Linked DNA regions of Homo sapiens: region 2 is linked to region 1. The links come from fine-mapping of genetic effects on gene expression. Tissue or cell type: gastroesophageal junction. Region 1 holds a variant in brackets; the other region holds the start of a gene. All regions are shown on one strand. Distances are between the middles of the regions.

Region 1 (4,356 bases):
TTCCTCTTTTCATATGTTTGAAAAAATATGAAAAAAACTTTATAAGTCTACATAAATGTATTTAAGTTAAATAAGTATTAATGTTAATTTCTTTTGTTTTAACTTTTACTATTATGTAGTATATCATTAAATAAGATTCCAAATCCTGAATTATAATGTTTCAACCTATTTTCACTGAATTGACTTCAGTCTTTTGGATCAGATTCTTTTTCTCTTCCTGGTTATTAGAGTACTAAACATACTGTTTAAAAGAAGGGACAGGATTGGGGAGTATGATAAAGTGGAAGAAAGTCACATGTTATTCTACCACCCCAAAGAGACCATGGTTTACCTTGTTAACCACAGGGCTTTATTCCTTCTAGTCTTTTTACCATGTAGTTGACACCATACCATTGATATTTTTTTTCTTATTTTTATTTTTAATTTTTGTGGGTACTTAGTAGGTGTATATACTTATGGGGTACATGAGATGTTTTGATACAGACATGCAATGTGAAATAAGCACATCATGTAAATTTTTCTTATTCTTTAACTTACTATTATATCAAAAGCATTTGTACATGTTCTTGAAACCAAGAAAAAGTTCATTTTCTAAACTTGTCTTACTGGTAGTTTTAATCATGCTTGTCTCCATTTAACTCCAGACAGGCAGTAGGAACAGGGTGAAGTTCCTGGGAAGGAGAACAGCCCCTGGGGGTGTAACAGTGACAGGAACAAGGGAAAATATGAAGTTCTGGCCTTGGTACAATGAAAGACTCTTCAGTGCGTGATGGACTTGGGGGAATTCTGTCTTGGATAACAAATAGAGCAGACATGTCCATCTAGATTGGGGCTTCTCCTAACAAAATTAAAAGGAGCAGAAAGGCACAATTACCTGTGTATAGGGAAAGTTATCTACTTACAGTCATGCTTTCCTATGAGATATCAAAACCAATGTTGCATTTCAAAGCAACTGGTTCTGACCAGCAGAAGCTGATTAATGGCTGTGAATGTTGGGCTACTACAGCACACCAGATTTTCACTGGAACAAACAGAAGACCCTTTCCTGACCAGTAAACAATGGGATTTATTTTAACCAATTATGAACAGAGGTAGGGACTCATTATTCTGTCCAAAGTACTGGTTTCAATTAATGTCGTGATGTGTAAGCGCCATGAATGCCTGTCCATATGCTAGCACTTAAAAAACACTGACATTTTCCTCTTAGAGAACTATTGAGTGAATTTCTTCACAATGCCTGTTCCCAGGCAAATAAATAAATTCTACTATTGTTTTGGTTTGCTGATTTTTTTTCCTTTGTTGCTGTTGTTTCATTCTTGTACCTACAAATCTATGGGTTGAATAAAATACATGTAACGCACACAATCGTAACTGTTTATATTTGCCTTTTGGATTTAAACCCACTATGTATGTTTCAAAATGTCCCATAAATAGATTTGTAACCCAGTCAGTTATTCCATTACCCATCTCTGGGAAAGATTAGGTATTTGGTCTTAAGGGTTCTATATATTTCCCAGCAGTGCATTATAAGCCAGGGATGCCATAAGCTCTGCCTCCTTGGGTTCATAGGGGATTTATTGTCTATGTAAAGTTACATCATTATTAACATCAAGGCATTAAAAACTGATAACCCAAAGTGGGAATAGCCCTTGGCCAAACGCTGAAGTAAATAAAGTTCGCCTTCATTTCTCCTTTGCTCTGGATTCTCTGCAGGATGTCCTCCCCTGGGCCTCACACTTCCCAACAGGCAGCTTTCCAAGCTCCAAAACTTTCCGACTCTCTACTTTCATCAGCTTTCAGCTTCAGGCTTACCACCCCCCTGGGTTTGGCTCCTTTTTTTCTAAAACACTCTAATGGCTAATTTCTTAGTATACTAACAAAACTTTCAAGTGGAAGTGAGTACAGCAAAGAATGAACCTTGTTAGTGACCCTTTCAACAAGAGTTTTCTAGTGCCGTGATCTTCAAACTCAAAGCAATCACACACACAGCAATAGGCTGTTGGACTGGGAGTTAAGATGCTATTTTCAGTAGGGCCTCTTCTTGGAACTCTCACCACCAGATGACTGTTTACACCGATTGTGCAAAGCTCTTTCTTAAGGTATGATTAGAACATTTGTGTTTGTGAAATATTCTGCCAATTGGCTCCTAAGATTGTTTTGGAATTAAACTGAAGAGCTATAGCTTATAGGTCTTTTATTGAATGGGTACATGTTATTTTAATTTTTTAAATTATCATTAACCTCATCATCATCTTAGCAGTAAGTCTTTAGTATGTATCAGGTGTTCAGGGGAAACTACCCTTCTCCTTCCATGAGGGTGGGCTTCAATGATATAACACTTCCTCTATGGGAGGGGGATCGGTTTATCTGATGGTTGGAATGGAAAGATTCTGATATCTTTTGGCCACTGTTTCTTCATTAGAGGT[A/G]GAATAACGAAGTATTATGCCTGCACTTTCTCTCTCCCCATTCACAAAACTCCAAGGACTTTAAGTTTGGTGCTGGGAACTCCCTTTCCCAAAGAGCTAGGAATATGCTGCTTTAGTGTGGTTGAACCATGTTTATCAGATTTATGAGTCATTATGCTCATATTTTGATTCTTTTCCAACATCAGTTGATGCAGAACTATGAAGGATAGCAGTCAAATGGCCCCCTCAGAGACTGAAACCACCAATTAAACCCCCAGGCTGTATACTCAGAGTTTTACATGCAGTATCTCATTTTACTGTTACAACAATCTTGAGAGGTAAATAACATTACTCATTTTACAAATGATGATGAGAATTTTAGTGACATGACCAGTGGATAAGTAGGAAAGGATTGTATACCAGGTATCTCACGTTACTTGCTGTTCTTTATACATTTACCCTTCAAGTAATTTATCCTTAAACTGTATTGTCTAGTATCACTTGATTTTGAACTTCAGATAAATGGACTCATGCTTTATGTATATTCTATTTGGTTTATTTCTCTCAGGTTGCTTATGAGATTTTTTTCATGTTGCTCCATATAGATGTAGTTTGTTTATCTAGTAAATAAAATGAAGTTGCCACAATTAGTTTATTATACTTCTTATAGACATTAGAGTTGTTTACAGTTTTTTACTATTATGAATAATATCACTATGAATTTTCTTGCATTTGTCTCTTAGCACATAGATGCGTTTTGTTTTTTTATTAAATCTTGTTCCACAGCCTGGCTTACCCTTGATATTTAGTCTTCCGAGTTGAGTCATCCTGGTGAGGTGGGAAGAGTATTTTCTTGTGGTTTTATTTTGAATTTTTCTGATGTCTAAAGAGAATGAACACCTTTTCATATGATGTTTTTAGTGATTTTGCTTTTCTTTGTAATAAATCCCTTTTAAGTCCCTTTGCCATTTTTCTACTAGATTTCTACTAGGTTTCTGTGTTCTTATTGATTTGTAGGAATATTATGTGTGATAGCCTTCTGTCAAGTATATGCATCATAAATATTCTCTACCACTATCTGGTTTACCATTTCACACTCTTACTCTTATCTTTTGATGAAAAGAAGTTTTAAAATTTATTGTAATCAAATGTACTATGCTTTTCCTTTATTGTTAGTATAGCTTGTTTCTCTTTTAATACAACGTTCACACTACTTCTCACATTCAGTTATCACTTAGGATTTATTTTTATGTGGTATAAGTTAGGGTTAGATTCATTTTTCCCCATAGAGAAAACCAATTGTCTCAGTACAGTCTATAGAAAATAACATGTTTTGCTCTTTCTGCTCTGTAGTGCCTCCATTATCATATATCAAGTGGCTGTATGTTTGTAGGTCTTTGTGAGGTGGTGGTGGGGGATCTTCTGTCTCATTGGCTAATTTGTCTAATCTGGTACTAGTTCCACATTGTTTTAATTTCTGTAGCTTTGTAAGTGGTATTTAGTATCTAGTAAAATAAGTCTTTCCTCCACTGTTTTCTATTTTCCTTCTTTGAGATTATCTGAACTGGTCTTCACTCTGCATTTTCACATAAATTTAATAATCATTGTGTCTATTTCCACAAAAATAGCAGCTGAGATTTCAATTGATATTGCATTGAATCTGTAGATTAATCTGGAGGCAATTCATAGTTTTATAATAGTGGGTCTTCAAATTCAAGAGCATGGAATACCCTTCTGTTTAGTTGCCTTTAATTTCCTTCAATTATGTATTTAGGTTTCTGAGTAGAGGTTTTATTCACCCTTGGTTAGATTTATTCTTAAATTTTTTAAATTGTCTGCTAAAATTGGTGGCTGGTTTCAAAATTTCTCTTTTATTTATTGCTTGTATATGGAAATGCAATTTTTATTTTGATATCAACTTTGGATCTAGCAATTTTGCTTGTTAGTCTTG
Region 2 (4,000 bases), 570 kb before region 1:
TCAAAATCCGAGTACCAAAAAATTCAAGCCAAGTCAAAATCAAAACCAAAGTATCCAGCAATTCAAGTCAAGTCAAAACCAGAACAAAAGTGCCAATGCAGGCACGCTGTGGGTGATCAGGCCACACTTCCACTCAGATGGAGTGGGGCAAGTTCCAAAGACTAGTCTTACCAAGTCAAGCCAAGTCAAAACCAGAACAAAAGTGCCAATGCAGGCACGCTGTGGGTGATCAGGCCACACTTCCACTCAGATGGAGTGGGGCAAGTTCCAAAGACTAGTCTTACCAAGTCAAGCCAAGTCAAAACCAGAACAAAAGTGCCAATACAGGCACGCCGTGGGTGATCAGGCCACACTTCCACTCAGATGGAGTGGGGCAAGTTCCAAAGACTAGTCTTACCAAGTTTCAGATGTCGCGACTCCAAGTGCCAGTTCTTTCCGGTGTTCAGCCACCGTGTTAATCCTCTGCAGGGGCCTGCTATGCGCTGCTCTGGCAAGGCATTCCACCGGGGCAATTTCCTACCCGGGAGCGTTCTTTGGATCGCGTCACTCAGGCTGACTGGAGTCCCCTGCAGGGACGCTCCACAGGACAGGCCTAAGCCGCCTAACGGGTTAGCTCTGCCGTCTATGTCTATCAGTTACCTCGTTTCCTGGTCAGGGAACCAAGAAATGTAGCAGGACGAGCTGCAGACAAAACCTTTCAGACACTGAGTTGTAGAAAGAAGGGCTTTATTCAGCTGGGAGCGTGGGCAAGCCACTGCCTTAAAATCCGAGCTCCCCGAGTGCACAATTTCTGTCCCTTTTAAAGGCTCACAATACTAAAGATTTCACATGTAAGGGTTGTGATTGATTGGAGCAAGCAAGGGGTACATGACAAGGGCTGCGTGCACCGGTGGTCAGAGAGAAACAGAACAGGGCAGGGAGTTTCACAGTGTTCTTCTGTACAATGTCTGGAATCTATGAATAACATCGGTTTCGAAGTTATGAATTGATTTTTAACTACTGGGTTTAGGCCAGGCAGGCCCAGGCCTGGTTTGGGCCTGGCACCGGGCTGCCTGTCTTTGATTTCACATCCTTGTTTTTTTTTTTCCTTAAAACAGGTACTGAGTATAAAACAATATGAGAGGGTCTCTCTCTTTCCTCAATATGACTACTTAAATTGGTCAAGGAAATGAACTACAGGGAGGAATATCTGCTTTGTACAAAGATTTTTTTAATGACACTCTTTAAAAAAATGATTATGTATATGTGCATTTTAACTGGATTCTCAAAGAGATATGGGACCCCAAAAGGCAAGTAACAACTGCTCAGGGCAAGTAAAGAGAACTTGGATTTCAAATGGTAACCTCCTAATTTGATAGGAAGTTTCTTGAAAGGAAGGATAACATCTGAGTCTCTTTGTAGTTCCTGCACCTTGTACAACAGTATTCAGCATACAGCAATCAGTGGGGGATTATTTGGAAAAAAATTAATTGATGAAAAAAGCAAGGCCTACTCGAAAACCATTGCTATCTAGGAATGACATCATTTGACATTGCTCCTTACCTCACCTACAGTGAGCATGCCAACTTACAAGCGTTACCAGAAAGAAAATACCCTCTTCTGAAATAGTAGGAATTAGCTATTTCATTTGTACATCTTGAAATTTCCACACTCTTTCCATGTCCAACTACTACCTTTAATTTTTATTTTTATGGTATTCACATTTGTAAAGATTTTATATTCGATCCTCAAAAAATTCTGGGGATGCATAGGTCTTCCAGGAAGTACGACTTCAGTGACAATAAAAATGAGGTCTGATTTCCCTCAGATAGGAAGTCTATTTTTCTATTTCCTTAAATTAACAAGAAAAGAGCAGTGGTCCTGTGAAATCCCATATGAATTCAAGTTATAAACATAGAACACAATCGACGTGTAAGTCTGTAACAACAGGAGACCAGAGTAACTTGTAACAGCAGGTGACTTTTCTAACAAAGGTCACACTGTGTGGGCTAAGCTAGCACCTCATCACTGCAAGAAGCAAAACAAAAGGAAAAAAAAGCTTCTCTCTCTCTTTTTTTTTTTTTTTTAAAGCAGCAGCATAATTCGCTGGCTCAGCAAATGTTTTTCCCTGTTATAGTTTGGGAAAGAAGGCAACTTGGAGGCCTTGTTTACCCTTAGCCCTTCCTCCCGCCCCCGACTGTACCATTAAATCCTAGATTCTAGGGTGACTGAAAAGGATAGGGAATAAATTAGTAATTGTCAAAATGTTTTCCCCATATTATGCATGGCAGCACTTGCTACTTTCTTTTAAGTTGATAACAATCAGCTCAGGGGTTTGCTCTGCTTGCAAGGTCACTGCAAGAATGAACATTGAACTTTGGACTATACCTGAGGGGTGAGGTAAACAACAGGACTATAAATATCAGAGTGTGCTGCTGTGGCTTTGTGGAGCTGCCAGAGTAAAGCAAAGAGAAAGGAAGCAGGCCCGTTGGAAGTGGTTGTGTAAGTAGGAACTTCGTGTTTTCTGATACTTTATTCTTTTAAAGTTTGGTAAATATTTTTTGAGTCTGATAAATTGTTTTTTTCCATAGAATAGATTCAGAAAACTGGTGGATAGAGGAAATAAAAATAATAAAAGAGAAAAAGAATAAGAAGAGTCTGAACTTAGGTGTGGTAGGTGAAGTTCCCAGTGCGCACATTTGTCAGTTCTTGATTTCTGCCCTGTCTTCTGCACAGCTGAGAGCAGAGGAAGCTGGAGAAATCCAAACCTTTTATTCTATAATCTGTTGTGATGTTACATAGGCAGTATTATATGTTCAAATTTAAATATTTTCCACTGAAGGGCAGAGTAAGAACAAACAGGGAAAAAACCCAGCCATTTGGATTTGAAGAGCAGACACTGAAATATGCTCATTCTAGTGTTGTAGAAATGTCCAGGGATATTGTGAGCAGTTTCAGAAGAAAAAGTGGTGGAATGGGGTACAGTAGGTTCAGTCCACAGTGCAGAAGTGGTCACCCTTAAAGAAGCTAAAACCCATGTCAACAATTAGGTGGTCTGTGATTAAATGCAAACTTTTGTATTTTAAATGGTGAATGAGAGCATTCAGGTGAATTAGGGGCTTTCAGATGCTGGCCTAAAGTTCAGAGGTGGAGGACAGAGAAAGTTTGTACATATCCTGCTTTTTAATGAGTAATTTTAAATAAATGTAGGTCTGAATGTGGCCATGAAATTTAAGTTTCGCAATTGAAAAGTGGTGACATAGTGAAATTTACAACTACTTTTCAATTCTTATTGGATCAGCTTCCAGGAAACCCAATTTTGTTATTTATCTTCATTATTTTTATATAGCTGTCTGACAACTATAATTATCAAAGGTTTACGGTGTAAGAAATAATTTTAAGAAAACAAAATTGAGCAGCCTGTTGATTATAATGACAGAAGAAATCCGAAAGTGTGAACTCTTAAGCTACAACTCTCTGCCAATGGGTTATTTTTTCATCATAAACCTAAATGAGGGAAATGAGTGAAACAGTCTTTTCATTTGTATTCACCATTCAGCTACTTGCAATATGTGCTCTGGGCTGGACGCGGTGGCTCACGCTTGTAATCCCAGCACTTTGGGAGGCCAAGGCAGGCGGATCACGAGGTGAGGAGTGTAAGACCAGCCTGGCCAACATGGTGAAACCCCGTCTCTACTAAAAATAAAAAAATTAGCAGGACGTGGTGGCGAGAGCCTGTAATCCCAGCTACTTGGGAGGGTGAGGTAGGAGAATTGCTTGAACCCGGGAGGCGAAGTTTGCAGTGAGCTGAGATTGCGCCATTGCACTCCAGCCTGGGTAACAGAGCAAGACTCCGTCTCAAAAAATAAATAAATAAATAAATAGATAAATAAATATGTGCTCTGTGGCAAAGTGAAAAAACCAAGTGCTGATTTTTTGCCAAGGTTCTGTAACTACTGAATTTGTGGTCTAGGAAACAGAGAAAACCTAGCCTTTCTATTAAGAAATAAAACAGCTTGAA

Direction of the effects. Positions count from the first base shown, and alleles are read on the strand shown. Sizes are in standard deviations (SD) of each study's normalised expression.
In carriers of allele A in region 1, the expression in gastroesophageal junction of the gene that starts at base 2,425 in region 2 tends to be higher than with G alone (small effect, 0.26 SD a copy in GTEx).

Evidence for each region. PIP is the estimated chance that this variant, and not a neighbour inherited with it, causes the effect. A credible set is the group of variants that fine-mapping cannot tell apart.
Region 2: it holds the start of SELENOP, and the variant in region 1 is the best candidate, but not a certain one, in a credible set for the expression of SELENOP in gastroesophageal junction (GTEx, PIP 0.65).

Annotation. Positions count from the first base shown.
Region 1 is chr5:42,240,701-42,245,056 of GRCh38, reverse strand. No RefSeq gene overlaps it. Among named protein-coding and RNA genes, the nearest start is that of LINC02996, 68 kb to the right of the region's middle. The variant A/G (reference allele first, on the strand shown) is at 2,427.
Region 2 is chr5:42,810,317-42,814,316 of GRCh38, reverse strand. SELENOP (selenoprotein P) reads left to right here and starts at 2,425. Exons shown (of 5, transcript NM_005410.4): 1 at 2,425-2,481. RefSeq lists an enhancer at 1,701-2,266.